Regions from separate parts of the Homo sapiens genome. Here region 2 is linked to region 1. The links come from fine-mapping of genetic effects on gene expression. A gene starts in region 1. The other region holds a variant in brackets. All regions are shown on one strand. Distances are from middle to middle.

Region 1 (8,337 bases):
ATAGTGGATCCCACAGGTTTGCAAGAAACAGCAGAATATCCATCTACCCCTCTTCCTGCCAGCACATTAAACTTCATATGGGGTGGAGAAACTTTTAATTAATGTTAGAAAGCCTGTACTTCCTATTTTTCTTCCCCCTCTTTTTCAAACATCTATATTATCACAATATAATACTCAAGAGTAATAATCAATATCGTAAAAGTTAAACCGAAGTGTATGCACCCTGAAATGCTTTGCCAGGCAGGCTATATCAACAATGGATTACAGATGTTCTCTCCTATGGGACAGGATTTAAGAATGATTGGGTCACTTCTCCAAAGTGGAGAAAGAGCTGTCATTAAGTCTAGTTTCAAGCATATTTAGATGCAAAATTATGACTGCTAAAATTTTTGGTCAATTATATAATTCTCTTTGTCTTTTCTTTTTAACACAGCTGCCTTATGCCTCATGTCACAAACACTAGCCATTTCTTTTGGGGAGGGAGTGAAAGAAGGGTGGTACAAGAAAAAAATGCCCTTTGACCAATGCTACTATGAAAGAAATAGCTCACTTTTTATATGAAAGTAAGTGGAATATACATATATTTCTAATAAAAAATATATATACATATATATAATGAAGAAAGTTGCACATACACACCTTTGTGGAAATCCCCAAATGCTGCAAGCCAATCTTACACAAACTGAAGAATCCAGTATTTTCATTAAATCCACACCAACGTTGTGACTTATAGGAAGAATGACATATGATTCTAAAGTTAATTTATACACTTGAAAAATCTTAGAATTAGGTAGCTCAAAACTGCAGTCACATGACGCTGGGTTTTTCTAATTCCTGGCATTTTTGAGGAAACAGTGTTAACGCCTCTGTTTACTCTCAGTATCAGCATTTAACTTTTTAATAGTCCTGCCTCACTTCCTTCCAGAAGATAGGAGGATAAAAAGATAAAATAAATAACTATTCATAGATGGGAGCCTCCCCTCAAAGCTGTTTTTCTCCACCTTTGAGGATGATGGTATTGATTAGAATTAAACCCCAAATCTGAACAACTGTATATTAGGCCCTTAAAATGAATATCATTAAAGAAGGAGACCAAAGCAATGAAGTTAATTCTCTTTTATTTGTTAAACGGAGTACCCTCCTTCCCCCACCCCTTCCTCCTTCTGGGCTGGCCTGTCACGCCTTCTCAACACGCTAAAATCATTCAGAGCGGCTTGCAGGGAGAAACACGACATTTATGGTAAGCGTCAGCCCTCAGAGAAAGAAAGCAGTTCATTAATTTACTTCACACTTACTTCAAAGTATGAGAGTATACCTTACCCCCTTAATCAATAGATATGATGTACAGTCAATATCCCCACAGCGTTTAAAAAAGGGTCAGAAATGTACACTCTCACACCACAAACATCAGTTTCAACTCTGCTCAATGAAATTTACACGATACAACTTGACTTCGAAATTTTGTAAACCCTAGGAAGATTTTTTGACATCCCTAGAAGCTGTGAAATCCTTGAGGGGGGTTCAAACACAACAGTAAAATAAAAATGTTTTCCCAGTCAAAACAAAACAGTTCGCCCAGCTAGTCACATTTTAGTTAATTCCATTTTAAAATTAGACTTCTGAGAGCACTTGTAACTGGTTAAAAATATGAACTGTTTTTATAACTTATGAATATTCAATAGGGCTACAAAGACTGGACTTTTTGCTACACTGGTGTTGTGCTTTCTGCGGTTTAAGTTCCCTTGTGGTGGCAGTGAAATTGTAATGGCATTTCTGAAGGCAACTAATAACACAAATGGCAAGCAAATGACTAAACCCCACCGAATTTGAACTAAGTGTATCTATTAACATGCACACACACTCATAGACAGATCTCTGGCCCAATCGCCATTAGACACTGACGCCTGGATAAATGTCCAAGATTTGTCAAAAGCTCCTCTCTATTCTTAGATAAATAGAACCCATATATTTCGATCAAAGTCCTGATTCTTTTCTCAGAAAGAGGCAGTGAGGTTTTCTGTGAAAATTTCTAAATTCCGTAAAACGCTCTTCAATTTCTTACCCAAAGAAAAAACGACCCTCGCTTACTCTCTTCTCTATCTAATCCTTTTGTATTGAAATTTACTCAACACCACGGGACACACACACCTCCTCCCCTAGAGTGAGACGTGCACTTCTAAAGCAGAATTCCACCTCAGGGAAAAAAAAAAAAAAAAAAAAAAAAAAAGCCACGGCATCAAAGAAACAACTCATGGGCGCGCAGGCGCGCATCCACGTCCCAACGCATCCCTAAAAATAACCCTTAGCCTCTCAACCTTTCTACTATTTCGTTGGAGAGCCGGGAAAGAAAAGGTGGGTTTAAAGATCTTCTTCAAAAATGTAGTGACGCTGTTTACCAAGTTAAGAAAAAAAAATCACTCAAGATTTTAGGTACAAGGAGCCAAAGGAAGTTGGCGACAGGGGCAGCGTTTGTGAATATTTATTCACTCAGCCTCCATCAACTTAGTCGGTTTCTCTCTTCAGCTCGACAGTCTCTCTCTTACAAACACACACTTTATTGCATTGTTCCCATTCCCCACTACCAGCTTTGGTGCGCGCACACAACACAAGCGCCCACACACACCCTTCCCTCTTCTCTGTCGCACAAATACACATGTTCACAGCCCTCCTTCTCCCCCAACACCAAACACACTCACCCCCCACCCAGTTGAGTCCCTCTTCCCTCCCTAGGTTTGTCAGTTACACTACCGTACACTCACACCCTTCCCAACACTTAACTGCTCTGTCCCTCTACCCCGCTTTGTCGCACACGCAGTTATCTTATCACACAACCCTCCCTTTTCTGCACTCTCTCCACTCCCCGCCTTTACCACACTGTCACTGTTACGGTGTCACACCCCCATCCCCCCTCCCTCCAGTCTCCGCACTGTCCTCTCCTACGCCTGGTCACACTCGCACACAGTTACATTGTTACACACACACTCATACACGCGAGCGCGCGCTTTGCGCTTTGTAACACACGCAGCCGCCCCCGCCCCCTCCGCTCCCACTCCCCCTTCCACCACGGCGGCAGGCGGCGGCGCCGATGACCTCACGGCGCGCGCGCCGCGCGGCCCGGCGAGGCCGCAGATTGGCTGGCCGCGCCTCCGCGGCACTTCAAAGCCGGAGAGGGAGCTACAATTGTGGTGGAATGGGCGGAACTGATCATTGTATTGCACACCTCTAAAAAAAACACTGCCTCTGATTTATCAATATAAAAAAGATCCTCTGAGAGGAGGAGGGCACTTTTGTGTGATGGCAACTTCACTTCTAGGGGTGAGTCTCAGGATTTTCTCTTGCTGGTTTAATTAGTTTCCTTTTATTGCCGATTGGAGGGGGTTAAAGTCGCCCCGGCCAGGCCACGGGCTATCAGTCTCTCTATTGAGAGCTTTTTTTTTTTTTCTTTAAATACAAGTGAGTTTGGAGAAAAGAAAAAGGGGGAGAAGGGGGCAGAGTCACTTTTTTTCAGCGCAGGAAAAGGTTCGAAGGGCATTTAGACAAGCCACCGCGCAGCGCCTCGCTGCTCCCTGCCCGGGAGACCTGCGTCCAGCCCATTTTACAGGCACCGATTTCGGGGGTAAAGAGAGCAAGTTTTTCCTTCTGGGCAAAGTGCAGATTCTTCCCCTAACCCTTAAAAAAAAATTCTGCAGCCCGCCTTGTCTCGCAGGTACGTTGAACTCGTCTCGTTTTTACTACTGTAGATATGCTTTTAAAAAAAGAAAGAAAGAAAAGCAGGAAGAAAGAGTGAGCCCTACAGTTTGATTTCTTTTGGCCTGGGAGAAACAACCCAGGATGGGTTTCTGGGGACCCGAACAGGTTTTTCAAAGCTCTCCGGATTACAGGGAAGCGCTCTTAAAAGCAATCCAATGGTTTTCCCCCAGGCTTCTCGGCAAAGAAAACTTCCTTCCTCTCCAATCTGGACTTTTTGCTTGTTTGTTACGAAGTGTCTGGGGCTTTGTGTGCAAGAGAGTGTTGTTTTAGGTGAGAATACTTGTCAAACTCTTCTTTAGCGTGGTGCTTGCTCCCGAATCAGACGCCGGCAGCCAAACTTGTCCCCTCCTGTAGAGTAGGAAGCGGCCGGGCGCCGGGGCTGTTGGGGGTGCCAGGTGAGTTGGTGGCGGCGCGCCGCAGCGAGAGATGGGGTGCAGTGGGGCGCTTTGGAGGCTACCGAAGGACTGATGCACATTTCTTCCTTTCCTCCCCCACCGGCCCTTTGCCCACCTCCCCTCCCCCACTCCTTCTCCTCTCCTCCTCGCAGGAAGAACCGAGGTTGGGATCGACTCCTCTGGCCATGCTTGCCGCTACCTGTAATAAGATAGGCAGCCCCAGCCCGTCTCCCTCCTCCCTCTCGGACAGCTCTTCTTCCTTCGGCAAAGGCTTCCACCCCTGGAAACGCTCCTCGTCCTCTTCTTCCGCCAGCTGCAACGTAGTGGGTTCCAGTCTCTCAAGCTTCGGCGTGTCCGGGGCCTCCAGGAACGGCGGCTCGTCCTCGGCGGCTGCGGCGGCCGCGGCAGCAGCCGCGGCTGCCGCGGCCCTGGTGTCCGACTCGTTCAGCTGCGGCGGCTCGCCTGGCTCCAGCGCCTTCTCCCTCACCTCCAGCAGCGCCGCAGCCGCCGCCGCCGCCGCCGCAGCCGCCGCCTCCAGCTCGCCCTTCGCCAACGACTACTCTGTTTTCCAGGCCCCCGGAGTTTCCGGGGGCAGCGGCGGCGGCGGCGGGGGCGGCGGCGGCGGCTCCTCCGCGCACTCGCAGGACGGCTCCCACCAGCCGGTGTTCATCTCCAAGGTGCACACCTCTGTGGACGGGCTGCAGGGCATCTACCCGCGGGTGGGCATGGCGCACCCGTACGAGTCGTGGTTTAAGCCCTCGCACCCGGGCCTGGGTGCTGCGGGCGAGGTGGGCTCGGCCGGCGCCTCCAGCTGGTGGGACGTGGGGGCCGGCTGGATCGACGTGCAGAACCCGAACAGCGCGGCTGCGCTGCCCGGCTCGCTGCACCCTGCCGCCGGGGGGCTCCAAACCTCGCTGCACTCGCCGCTCGGAGGCTACAACTCGGATTACTCGGGCCTGAGTCACTCGGCCTTCAGCAGCGGCGCCTCCTCGCACCTGCTCAGCCCCGCCGGGCAGCACCTCATGGACGGCTTCAAGCCAGTGCTACCCGGCTCCTACCCGGACTCGGCCCCGTCGCCGCTGGCCGGCGCGGGGGGCTCCATGTTGAGCGCTGGGCCTTCGGCGCCGCTGGGGGGCTCCCCGCGCTCCTCAGCTCGCCGCTACTCCGGCCGCGCCACCTGCGACTGCCCCAACTGCCAGGAGGCAGAGCGGCTGGGCCCTGCCGGGGCGAGCTTGCGGCGCAAGGGCCTGCACAGCTGCCACATCCCGGGCTGCGGCAAGGTGTACGGCAAGACTTCGCACCTCAAGGCGCACCTGCGCTGGCACACGGGCGAGCGGCCCTTCGTGTGCAACTGGCTTTTCTGCGGCAAGCGCTTCACGCGCTCCGACGAGCTGCAGCGGCACCTGCGGACCCACACCGGCGAGAAGCGCTTCGCCTGTCCAGTTTGCAACAAGCGCTTCATGCGCAGCGACCACCTCAGCAAGCACGTGAAGACGCACAGTGGCGGCGGCGGCGGCGGCGGCTCGGCGGGCTCGGGCAGCGGCGGCAAGAAGGGCAGCGACACCGACAGCGAGCACAGCGCCGCGGGCAGCCCGCCCTGCCACTCCCCAGAGCTGCTGCAGCCCCCCGAGCCCGGGCACCGCAACGGCCTAGAGTGACGCCCACCCTGCGCCCGCCCCTCTCCCCGACCTCCTCCCACCAAGTCCTCTTGGGCCCTGTCTGTCCGGACTTCAACTCCAGCCTTTCCCTATTGCATCCGACTCGCTCTCTGTCTCTTTCTGTTTCTGCCCCTCTTCCTTCTTCCTTCTGTGACTTAACTTTGTAAAGGGGATATGGACAAGTAAGTAACACGCATCGCTGTCCCGGGCCCTGGCTTTCCCTTTCCACGGGTAACGCTGCCTGAACCCGTTGCAGCCGGAACCCGCGCCTCGTCGGGCCTTTATTTCTCGTTCTCTCTTCCTTGTCCTCCCCTCCTCCACCCCCCAGGTTGTGAAGGGCGTAACTTTTAGAGGGAACGGCCACTGGAGGTAGAGCTGGACTAATCCAGTGCCTGGTAGACAGCGGGCCTCGCGCGGGCAGGAGCGGCTCGGCTGACAAGCCTGAGCGGAGCGGTGGAGAGGGAGAGGCTGGAGGCCTGGGCAGAACAGCGCCGCCCGGGCAGACGGCTGCTTGGTTCCAGAGCCGCTGTACTGAGCACCTCGGCTTCGGAGCACCCTGCCAGGCCCCTGGGCATCGCCGGACGTCCTACTCAGGCTGTCGGGGCTTGGTGGGGGTGACTTTTGGCAGCCCGAGACCCAGAGTTTGTAGAGTTTAGATCTCCCAATGTCAGTCTGCCTCTTTTTCTTTGTTCCCTGAGGTGGAACCGATGCAAGTTTCAGCAAAGGGCAGTCTTGTCGAATCGCTGCAGCAGCTTTCTTTCATCTTTATAGCATATATTTTATTTTTAAAAAAACTAGGGGGAAAATAGCAACCTTCCATTTGGTTTCCCTTCTATAATAGTTTTTTCCTCTAACGGGGAGCAATCTTTCTCTCGAAACTGCTAATATTGATCCCAAAGTTACTTTGACTGCATTAACTTAACTTACGGGGTGGGGGCGGGGGTGAGGGTAGGTGCTTTTTTCTTATGCAAAAATACTCCTTTCCGGTGAGACCAGATTAACTATCTCCATGTTTGTCCTTTTCTACCTCGTTTTTTCACCACTCCCAAACATAACCTCCCAATCTTTTTTGTTAGTCCGGCCGTCAATTGTATAGTACCAATTTCGTAAATTCTCTCAATTCATGAAGATCGTAGGGTTAAACTTTTTTGTGTGTGATTTAAACTTACAAACAAGTGAAGAAGCTATCGTTTATTTCAGACGAGGCTGTAGTTTAAATACCAAAAGAGGGAAAATAAAAAAGAACCTTTGTAAAATATATCTGAACCTAATGGTTTGTACAACTGGAGAATCGTTCTAGATTAGTTACCAATTAAATATAACTCCGCCAGTGTAAGGGTGTGAGGTGCAGTTGTCCAGGAGACGATTTTGTATAGTATTTTTCTTGTACATTACTTCCAGTAAATATTTGAAAATATATTGAAGTAAACTTGATTTTTTTTTTTTGTCACAAGAAAATATTAAGAGTTATTGTTGCAGTTCTGATGAGCTGCAGGTTTTTTGAACTCACTTCTGGAGGTGCAGAGCCACAAACGCACTTTCGGGGCCTAGTTTTGCTCGAATATGAATTTAGATAGGTATCAAGCTGTAACTAAGACAATATTTGATAAATGTTGGATGACATTTAATTTAATGGAGCATGTACTTATTTGCATTTGCTGGCAGTTCAGGCATAGTTAAAGTGAGAGTTCTCCTATATTTCATAATAAGTGGTCTGCCAAAACCCATGTATTAAATAAATTGTCCAAGTGAAACTCGACTAACTTTGGCCTTTGTGTATTTCCTGAAGGTAATATTGTTAACTGTTAATAAATACTTCTGACACTACATTTAAATGTTTGCAGATTCTGCAAACTAATTGCTCATTGTAATGTTGAAATAATTTGGATATTTCACATTGAAATGAAAAGCCTTTCTCTGGAGCATTTTAGATTTGCATTTTAAATGCATGAAATGTAATTGATTTATTTGTAATATTTTAAATGGTATAATAAACTCAGATAAAAGACTAGGCCAGTTAATTTGTATTTTTTCCCCTTTTTAAACTATGGACGTGCATTTTATCTTCAGTTAATTGTCTAATTTAAACAAAATATATCCTTGTTTGTGGTAATATTTAAATAATTACCTTTAAGATGTTAGATGGAAAGATCTATTTGGCAAAGCTGTGTTTTCTCTGTTTACCAAGATAAAGATTATAGTGTCTAAGGAATGTAATTGATTATTTACCAGTAGATTTAGCTCATAGCATCAGGATTTACTGACCTCTTAAAATTTGTACTAAGTCACAATTCAAAGAAATTTCACCATTCTCTTTCCTTCTCAGTCTCCAGAAGGAGTCAGGTTGTTGGCCATTGATTGCATTAGTATTTAAAAGGCCAAGCCTTACATTGGAAGATCAATACATCTAAAATAAAAACATGGGTTTGGGGATAACTTTTGTTGTTAGGAGGTGGAGGAGGTCAAGCTAACAAAAGCTTGTTTTTGGCATTCCAAGTCTTAGCTAAAGATTATGTAGAGGTAAATATCAGTAG
Region 2 (8,337 bases), 55 kb after region 1:
GGAAACCAGCCGAAAGGGACTAACACAAAGAGATAGGATAAAATAAACTTATTTTGTACATCTAAATCTACACATTTATAGTGAAATAACAAATAGAATGTGTTACCAGGACTAACAAAGGGAGAGGTGAGTGTTTTACTACACATGGGTGCATGAGAACCTAAACAAGAGATTTTCTAAACGCCCCTATGCCTTGTCTGTAAGGTGGCAGAATGAAAATGTTATCACCTTATTTTAAATGCTCATTTCAGATAAACTTCTAGGATAGTAGAAATAGAGACGGCTTCTACCATAAGACATGCGTGTTGTCTTTTTTTTTCTTTTAGAGGCTTTTTCCTCTAAAAAGCCTTGCTGACAAACTAATATTATGAGCACATTAAAGAATTTTGCTGTTAAAACTCCCTTTGTGTATCTCCCTTTCTGAGACACAATGTCATTTTTGAAAGAGACACAGATAATCCATCCTTGTAGCTATAAATTATGCCTTGGAGTAATCTGGAATGTTTGATAAAATGAAGATTCCTGCCCCATACTAGATCTACAAATCAGATTTTGCAGGATGAGATCTAGGTATCTACAGTTTTAACCAGCTCCTAGATTGCTGAGTTGGAAAACCATTGGTTTAGAGAATGGCTCAAAGTGCTTTTTATCTAAGAAGAATTCTAGTAGGAGGGAGTTTTCTTTGTAAATTTCTTTGGTTTAGCTAGTCGATGAGATTGAAAGCTGTCTGTCATCCTAGATTCTGGAAGGTACAGAGTCTTCTAGGCCAGGTATCATTTAGTGTGTCTAAAGGGAGCTTGTGACACATTCATGGTAGTTGGGGCCACATTTGATCTCTAGGACCAAATCCTCTTTGGTGTTGAAGACAAATCTCATCTATTGACATTATGCATAGTGCTATGTTGCTCTTTTGGGCAATAACCACATTTAATACTGGAGGAGAATCCCTAGAGAATCTCTCTTTTGTCCATACTCCAAAAGTGTGGGTACCCTTATTCTGTCTGTATTCTGACTGGATGAAACTCAAAACGTGAGGCTGGGTGTGGTGGCTTACACCTGTAATCCTAGCACTTTGGGAGGCTAAGGGAGGTGGATCACTTGAGGTCCGGAGTTTGAGACCGGCCTGGCCAACATGGTGAAATCTGGTCTCCACCAAAACATGCAGAAATTAGCCAGGTGTGGTGACATGTGCCTGTAGTCCCAACTACTCAGGAGGCTGAGGTGGGAGAATTGCTTGAATCCAGGAAGCGGAGTTTGCGGCGAGCTGAGATCGTGCCACTGCACTCCAGCATGGGCGACAGAGCGAGACTCGAACTTAAAAAAAAAAAAAAAGAAAAGAAAAGAAAAGAGAAGAAAAGTGATACCAGTGGCTCTAGCTCAGATAGCTCTCTATTTCTTCCTTCCCTTGGGGCACTGGGAAATACCAAGGTGGTACTATTCTTTAATTGTTACTCTTATGTTAACAGTCCTTCATATGTTCTGATAGTTAAAATGCTTATGTATCTAGAAGAGACCCCCTTTTAATGAATTTAATTAAAAGAAATTCAGGAAGTATGGTAGGCCAGCTCAGGGAAGAAATTTTATATTGGGGACTTTTCATTCTCATATTTTAGGGCTATAAAATAGCACTAAGCAGGTCACCTGTTCCATTTATATGTGAGGAATCAGCCCAACTTTGAATACTCGAATGTTTGAAAAACTAAGCAAGAATTATTTAAAAAATAATTTCACAGAAATATTCTATGAATGTTTGGCCACAGAATTTGTAATAATAATAATAATAATAATAATGTACGTTGAGTAAACCAAACCTCTGGAATCTGGAACCATGAACTTGAATCTGTGCTCTGCTACTTACCGATTATGTAACTTTGAGCAAGTTAGGTAACCTCTTTGAGTCTTAATTGTTCTCATCTGTAAAATGGGAACCATAGTATTTCACAGGGTAGTTTAGAGCATTAAACAGATAATATACAGCAAATACTTAAAACTGAGTAAAGATTCAATCAAGATTTGCCGTTATAGCAATTTTCATAAGTAATGGAATGGTTGGCAGTCTTGGAAAGCCCCTTAAAGGAAACATCCTAACGGGTGTCATTTGCAGGCATGAAAGTGACTGGCATGATTTTGAGGTTGTATCATTCTTCGACTGAGAAATTTTTTCTTAGCTTTAATCTAAACAAATCTCAGTAGGTACAGGTAAATTCTCAATTCCACACATCATATTTTATATCAATGGTTGCCCTCGATTTAGATCCAGTCCTCCTGCCAAAGCACCTGGTATTAGACATATGGGTGTAGAAAAGAAGAAAATTAGAAAAATTTGTGAAAAACAGACTCCTGTTTTCAAAGTGTGAAGGTGACTCCGAAGGCACATTTCCAGAAATGACTGTACTGCCTAATTATGTACCATTCCAAATCTCCCCCTTAATTTTGATTCAGTCATTCATTCAATAAATATTTATTGTGTGTCTGTTATGTGCCACCCACTTGTTTTTGGCTTTTGGGAAACATCAGTGAACAAGATAGGTTACAACTTGTGCTCAGTCTATGCACTCATAAATATGGAAACACAAAATATAATTTCATAGAATCATAAGTGTCATAAGTGTTGTAAACAAAATATGGTGATGGGAAAGAGAGTGATGAGGAGGGAGGGTTAGGGGAACTACTTTGGACCATCGGTGAAAGTCCCTCTGAGGAGTGGACTTAGCAGGGGAAGCCTGAGTGGTAAGAAAAAGGTAGCTTAGCAAAGCCCTGGGGAATGACCATTCCAGGCAGAGAATAGCAAGTGTGAAGACCCTGCAATGGGGAGGTCCAGGGACAGACATGGCAAGTGTGGGGCTGATGAGTAGTTAACATGGGAGATAGAGGTGGATGAAATTGGAAAGCAACGCAGCAGCCCCATCATGAAGGTCTTTCAGGTCATGGTAAGGACTTTGGCTTTATTCAAATTTCAGTGGGAAGATCTAGATCTTGCAGAATTTTAATAAACTGGTGCTATTGGATTTGTGCATTAAATGATCAGTCTGGCTGCAGTGTGGAGAATGGATTATAGGGAAGCAAGAGTGGACACAAGGACATTGGTGAGGTTGTTGCAGTGGTCCAGTCAAGACAGGGAGGGGCTTGGATGAGTGTGAAGAGGATGAGAAGAATTTTGGAATTAGAGTCATGAGGAATCAGTGATTTATGTGGTGGACAATGGCAAGAGAAGCAACAGGGATGACTCCAACATTTTTGGGCTGACAACTGTGTGGATGGTGGTTGGTGTTATTAGTTAAGATGGGAAAGTCTTGGGGAAGATAACCTTTGGGGAGAAACACCTTAAATTCTGTTTTGAACACATTGAGATATTAGTCCTCCAAGTGGAGGTGTCTCCTAAGTAATTGGATAAGGGTCTTGTGCTCAGGGCAGGGTCAGAGTTGGAAATATACAGAAGGAAGTTATCAGGACACAGGTGGTATTTAAAACTGACAGATTGGATGAGAACACTAATGAAAGTGTAATAGATGAAAGGTCTGGGAGCTCTAAAGCCCTCCAACACACAGAGTCCTGGCTGAAAAACAGGATCCAGTAAATTTTATATGTATATATATATATATATTTTTTTTTTTTTTTCCTGAGTTGGAGTCTTGCTCTGTTGCCCAGGCTGGAGTGCAGTGGTGTGATCTCGGCTCACTGCAACCTCCACCTCCGGGGTTGAAGCAATTCTTGTCCCTCACCTCCCAAGTAGATGGGATTACAGGCGCCCACCACCATGCCCAGCTAATTTTTGTATTTTTTAGTAGAGACGGGGTTTCACCATGTTGGCCAGGCTAGTCTTGAGCTCCTGACCTTGTGATCCACCCACCTCTGCCTCCCAAAGTGTTGGGACTACAGGCATGAGCCACC[G/A]TGCCTGGCCTTCTTATTTTTTTTTATAGGTGTGATTACAAAGCAAAGAAAGAGTAGTGACAGAGAAATTGATGAAAACAGATGAAAATTCTTCTGTGAGAATTTGGAAAATCATCAAACCTCGTACATTAGTATGAATATGTTTAATTGGCTTGCTTTCTACTAATACTCAAAACTAGTTATACAGAAGGAACGGGGCCCTGGGGATTAAAGAAGTCTGTGGAAAGTTTAGAGCAACATGAGGAAAACATGTTTTGAGTTTCAAACTATTGGCTTGCAAACAAACTTTTGGATTACAACCAACTTTCAAGCTTGGGAGTGCCTGGATTATATTAGAACAAAGGAAAAACTGGCTCACGGGGGCTGGTGAGCTGAATTATTTATGTGATTTCAGATTTTGTTTCTTGTTAATCTACCTAAGTAATTAGTCTTATGTAATCAGAATGAAACCCAAGCCTAAATATAATTGTGGTTTATAAATTCACATGGGCAATAGTGCACACTATTTTAGAGGCTAGGAGAACATAGGACAGGGAACTTGCAATTTCTGTTGAAATTTTATTTTAAATTTTTTGAGGCAGAGTCTCACTCTGTCATCCAGGCTAGAGTGCAGTGGTGTGATCTTGGCTCATTGCAACCTCTGCCTCCTCGGGTCAAGTGATTCTCATGCCTCAGCCTCCCAAGTAGCTGGGATTACAGGCATGCACCGCCATACATGGCTAATTTTTGTATTTTGACTACAGACAGCATTTCACAGGTTGTCCAGGCTGGTCTCGAAATCCTGACCTTTGGTGATCCACCTGCCTTGGACTCCCAAAGTGCTGGGATTAGAGGCATGAGCCACCACATCCAGCCCTTCTGTTGAAATTTTAAATACAGATATTCCATTTCCATATTCCATTTTATAAGGAAATCTGCTTCCAGGAAACTTCTAAGTGGCTTTGGTGTCAGGTAAGATTTAGGAATACTGGGTTGGTGAACTCTGGACTGTTTTCTTATCAGTGCCTAACAAAGAAACTTCCTGGGACTTCACTTAATGCTTAATAAATAAATAAATTTTCATGTGAATAGAAACTAAAAATTATTCCAAGTTATTCTGAAATTACTTAGGTTTAAATGTCTTTTGGCCATTTCCTCAAATTGAACCTATCCTGAAAATACAAATATGCCAACAATAAGGATATTCAAAGTAATGTCCTGAGACTTGGGAAACAAAACCCAAAGAGAAGTGCCCAGTGTGTTCTGCCAAATAGCAGCATCCTTGTAACAGGTGTAATCTCCCAATTCATTATTGTGAAGAGGCTGATACTTGCATGGATGTGCATTTTTTGGTGGGCTTGTTAAAAATAACATAATGTTACTTTTTTGAGTCAAGTATTGTATGGATTTCTCCAGTTCTAAATGCTTAGCAATGACGTTTATGATGGATTAGCAACATTTCTGATATTTTAGGCTCTCAGCTCAGAATTAATACTCAAAATTAATTTTTCTAATTTAGCAGTTGCATTAGATGTTCCGGTAAAACAAATAAATTCATAATTATGTGACCAGAACTTCAAAATAGGAGCTCCAACCTAATGCTTTGGGAAGAAGCAGCCTCACTGGGACACCACATTCAATTCCAAATGTGACATTTTTGAAGGGAAACACTCATTTATATGTGTTTCTTCTGGATTATTTGCTTAGCAAATAATTCATCCTCACTGATGTACAGTCTTACTTTAGGAAGCCATCTCCACACTGAGAGTTTCATAATGTCTCACAAATTTCCTAAGGGATGAATGACAAGAAGGCATATTTTGCCCCCACATTCCCATGTTCCAGTAAACTGAAGCAGAGAGCAATTCATCTGGGAATTTAATTCAGATTTTATGCCTTATATCAGTATCAGTATTTTACCAGTTATGCTGTACTTATAGAGACTAAATAACAAAAACACTTAGCTCGATTTAATCATTTCACAGTGTTAACATATATCAGAACATCCCATTGTACCCCATAAATATATAATATGTACAATTATTGTCTGTCAATTAAAAATAAAATTCATCCCAATTACCCTGATTTGATCATTAAACATCATATGAATATATCAAAATATCATGTGTACCCCTAAAATATGTGTAACTATTATATATCAATACAAAATTTAAAAATATGTGTATATTTAAAAAAATTCCAACTTAAAAAAAATTCAAGCATACCTTTTCCACATATGTGATTTAAATGATAACTCACTATAAACTAGACATCTTTCTGGTAAATAAGTACATGACCCCCTTACAAGGTTTATGTATTTCCACAACTTATTAATTAATTTATTTATTTTGAGACAGAGTCTCACTTTGTTGCCCAGGCTGGAGTGCAGTGGCGTGATCTCAGCTCACTGCAGCCTCCATTTCCTGGGTTCAATCGATTCTCCTGCCTCAGCCTCCTGAGTAGGTGGGATTACAGGAGCCTGCCACCACACCCAGCTAATTTTTGTATTTTTAGTAGAGATGGGGTTTTATTATGTTGGTCAGGCTGATCTCAAACTCCTGACCTCAAGTGATCCACCCGCCTCAGCCTCTCAAAGTGTTGGAATTACAGGTGTGAGCTACCAGGTCCGGACTATTTCCACGACTTACATGAACATGCCCTCTGGGGTCATTCGTCCAGCTTGAATTAAATAGGCTCCAAATCGAAACCCTGCCGCATAGGCAAAATATATAAAGGCATGGCTGAATGCATAACAGCTTCCAATAATCTGTGCTTTCTTCGAGGTATTTCTGGAATGTACAAAATTTACCAAATAATGAGGCATGAATTATAGCAAGGTCAATTGAATACATGTAGAGTAATAAATAGAGAGGACTTTGAAATGTTATAATTTGGTGGAAAGGCATTTTTCGAATGATGAAAGAGAAAGTGATTTTTTTTTTTTTACTACTGAGAATTCTTTGAGAAAAGACAGATAATGTTATAATTCTTTTCCCTATAGTCATATACTCTCTAGTTCAGTATAACAAATTTAACTTTATATACTGTTAAATGAATGGGCAAAGCCCGTGAAAGGATGGCTAGTGTAAGAGTTAGAGATTTGGTTTAGGTATTTAGAAGGATTTTCTAAGTCTCCATTACAATCTTTCATTAACAGAATAGAGGAAATTAAAGGGTGGTGCCAACTACAAGTATGAGTCCAAAAGAGTAAAAAGCTATCTTTCTGTTAAAGTAATATAAAAAGCATCACTAAGTCAATGTGATAAGGAGGACTAGTTTAAAATTAAAAGTGTAAGTGCATTTATTATGTATATATTCGTATTTAAAATGTAAACTATTTTAGGGATTTAATGTAAAGGGCCGAGCTCTTTTCTCTTGCTGTGTCGCCTAGGCTGGAGTTGGAGTGTAATGGCATGATCTCAGCTCACTGCAACCTCTGCCTCCCAGGTTCAAGTGATTCTCCTGCCTCAGCCTCCAAGTAGCTGGGACTACAAGTGTGCACCACCACACCCAGCTAATTTTTGCATTTTTAGTAGAGATGGGGTTTCATCATGTTGTCCAGGCTGGTCTCTAACTGTTGACCTTAAGTGATCCGCCCACCTCAGCCTCCCAAAGTGCTGGGATTACAGGTGTGAGACACAGCGCCCTGCCCGCAATTTTATTTTCTTTCTTGCGTATGTTATTTCATTAATATTCTTTCAGGAAAATAAGAAAAATGTGCATACTTAGTAACAGACAGTTAATGGTAATGTGAGAGGACCTAAAATATTTATTCTAATTGTGGTTGCCCTCAATTCCTCTTCTAGTTTCTCTTGGTGAAGTCATATGAGAAATTATGACATGACATTATTAGGAAAGGCTCAAGAGCAAATGAATTAGCAGGCAAACCACTGGAGTCATTTGAGAGTACTGCCTTTACAGAACAAAATTAAGTTTTTGAAGTCAGTATGAATCTATAATCACCTGTGTTGAGTCTGAAGCATCTCTTCATACATTTGCTCGAAGGCTTTTTCCCTTGTTAATGACACTATAGTACGTATATTCTCCAAAGCTTCAGTTGCTATCTTATAAAACAGGACAATACAATATAGAAATAAAATTAGTAATGGTTAATCTTTTCCCATTTGTGAATTCTAGTCACTCACACTGGGGACATATTAAGTATATCAAGTCAGTAAGTTTTCCTGACAAATATTCTTAGCTTCCTTTCCTCCCAGAAAATAAGATAGAAAAATGACACTTTTGGATGATAAGCTTAAGGAAAATGTCTTATTGAGATTTAGTCTACTGATCTAAGTTTAACCCCATTCAAGTTTATACTGAATTTCAATTTAAACTTGTTCCATAGACAGAAGAATAAAACATTAGTAAGCATTATGTTCACATGCAAAGGAGCTTCCTACAAATTATGAAACAATTCAAGTAAAAGATAGCAGATGCTAGGCACAATGGCTTATGATTGTAATC

Alleles and levels. Alleles are on the strand shown, and positions count from the first base shown. SD is a standard deviation of normalised expression in the study named.
With allele G in place of A in region 2, the expression in sun-exposed skin of the gene that starts at base 3,207 in region 1 is higher (small effect, 0.23 SD a copy in GTEx).

Evidence for each region.
Region 2: its variant is fine-mapped to the expression of SP8 in sun-exposed skin (GTEx, PIP 0.92).

Annotation. Positions count from the first base shown.
Region 1 is chr7:20,781,756-20,790,092 of GRCh38, reverse strand. SP8 (Sp8 transcription factor) reads left to right here and starts at 3,207. Exons shown (of 2, transcript NM_182700.6): 1 at 3,207-3,315; 2 at 4,298-7,814. The coding sequence starts at 3,295. The coding sequence ends at 5,803. RefSeq lists an enhancer at 6,169-6,829.
Region 2 is chr7:20,726,637-20,734,973 of GRCh38, reverse strand. ABCB5 (ATP binding cassette subfamily B member 5) reads right to left here. Exons shown (of 28, transcript NM_001163941.2): 22 at 7,834-7,934; 23 at 6,519-6,659. Among named protein-coding and RNA genes, the nearest start is that of SP8, 56 kb to the left of the region's middle. The variant G/A (reference allele first, on the strand shown) is at 3,892.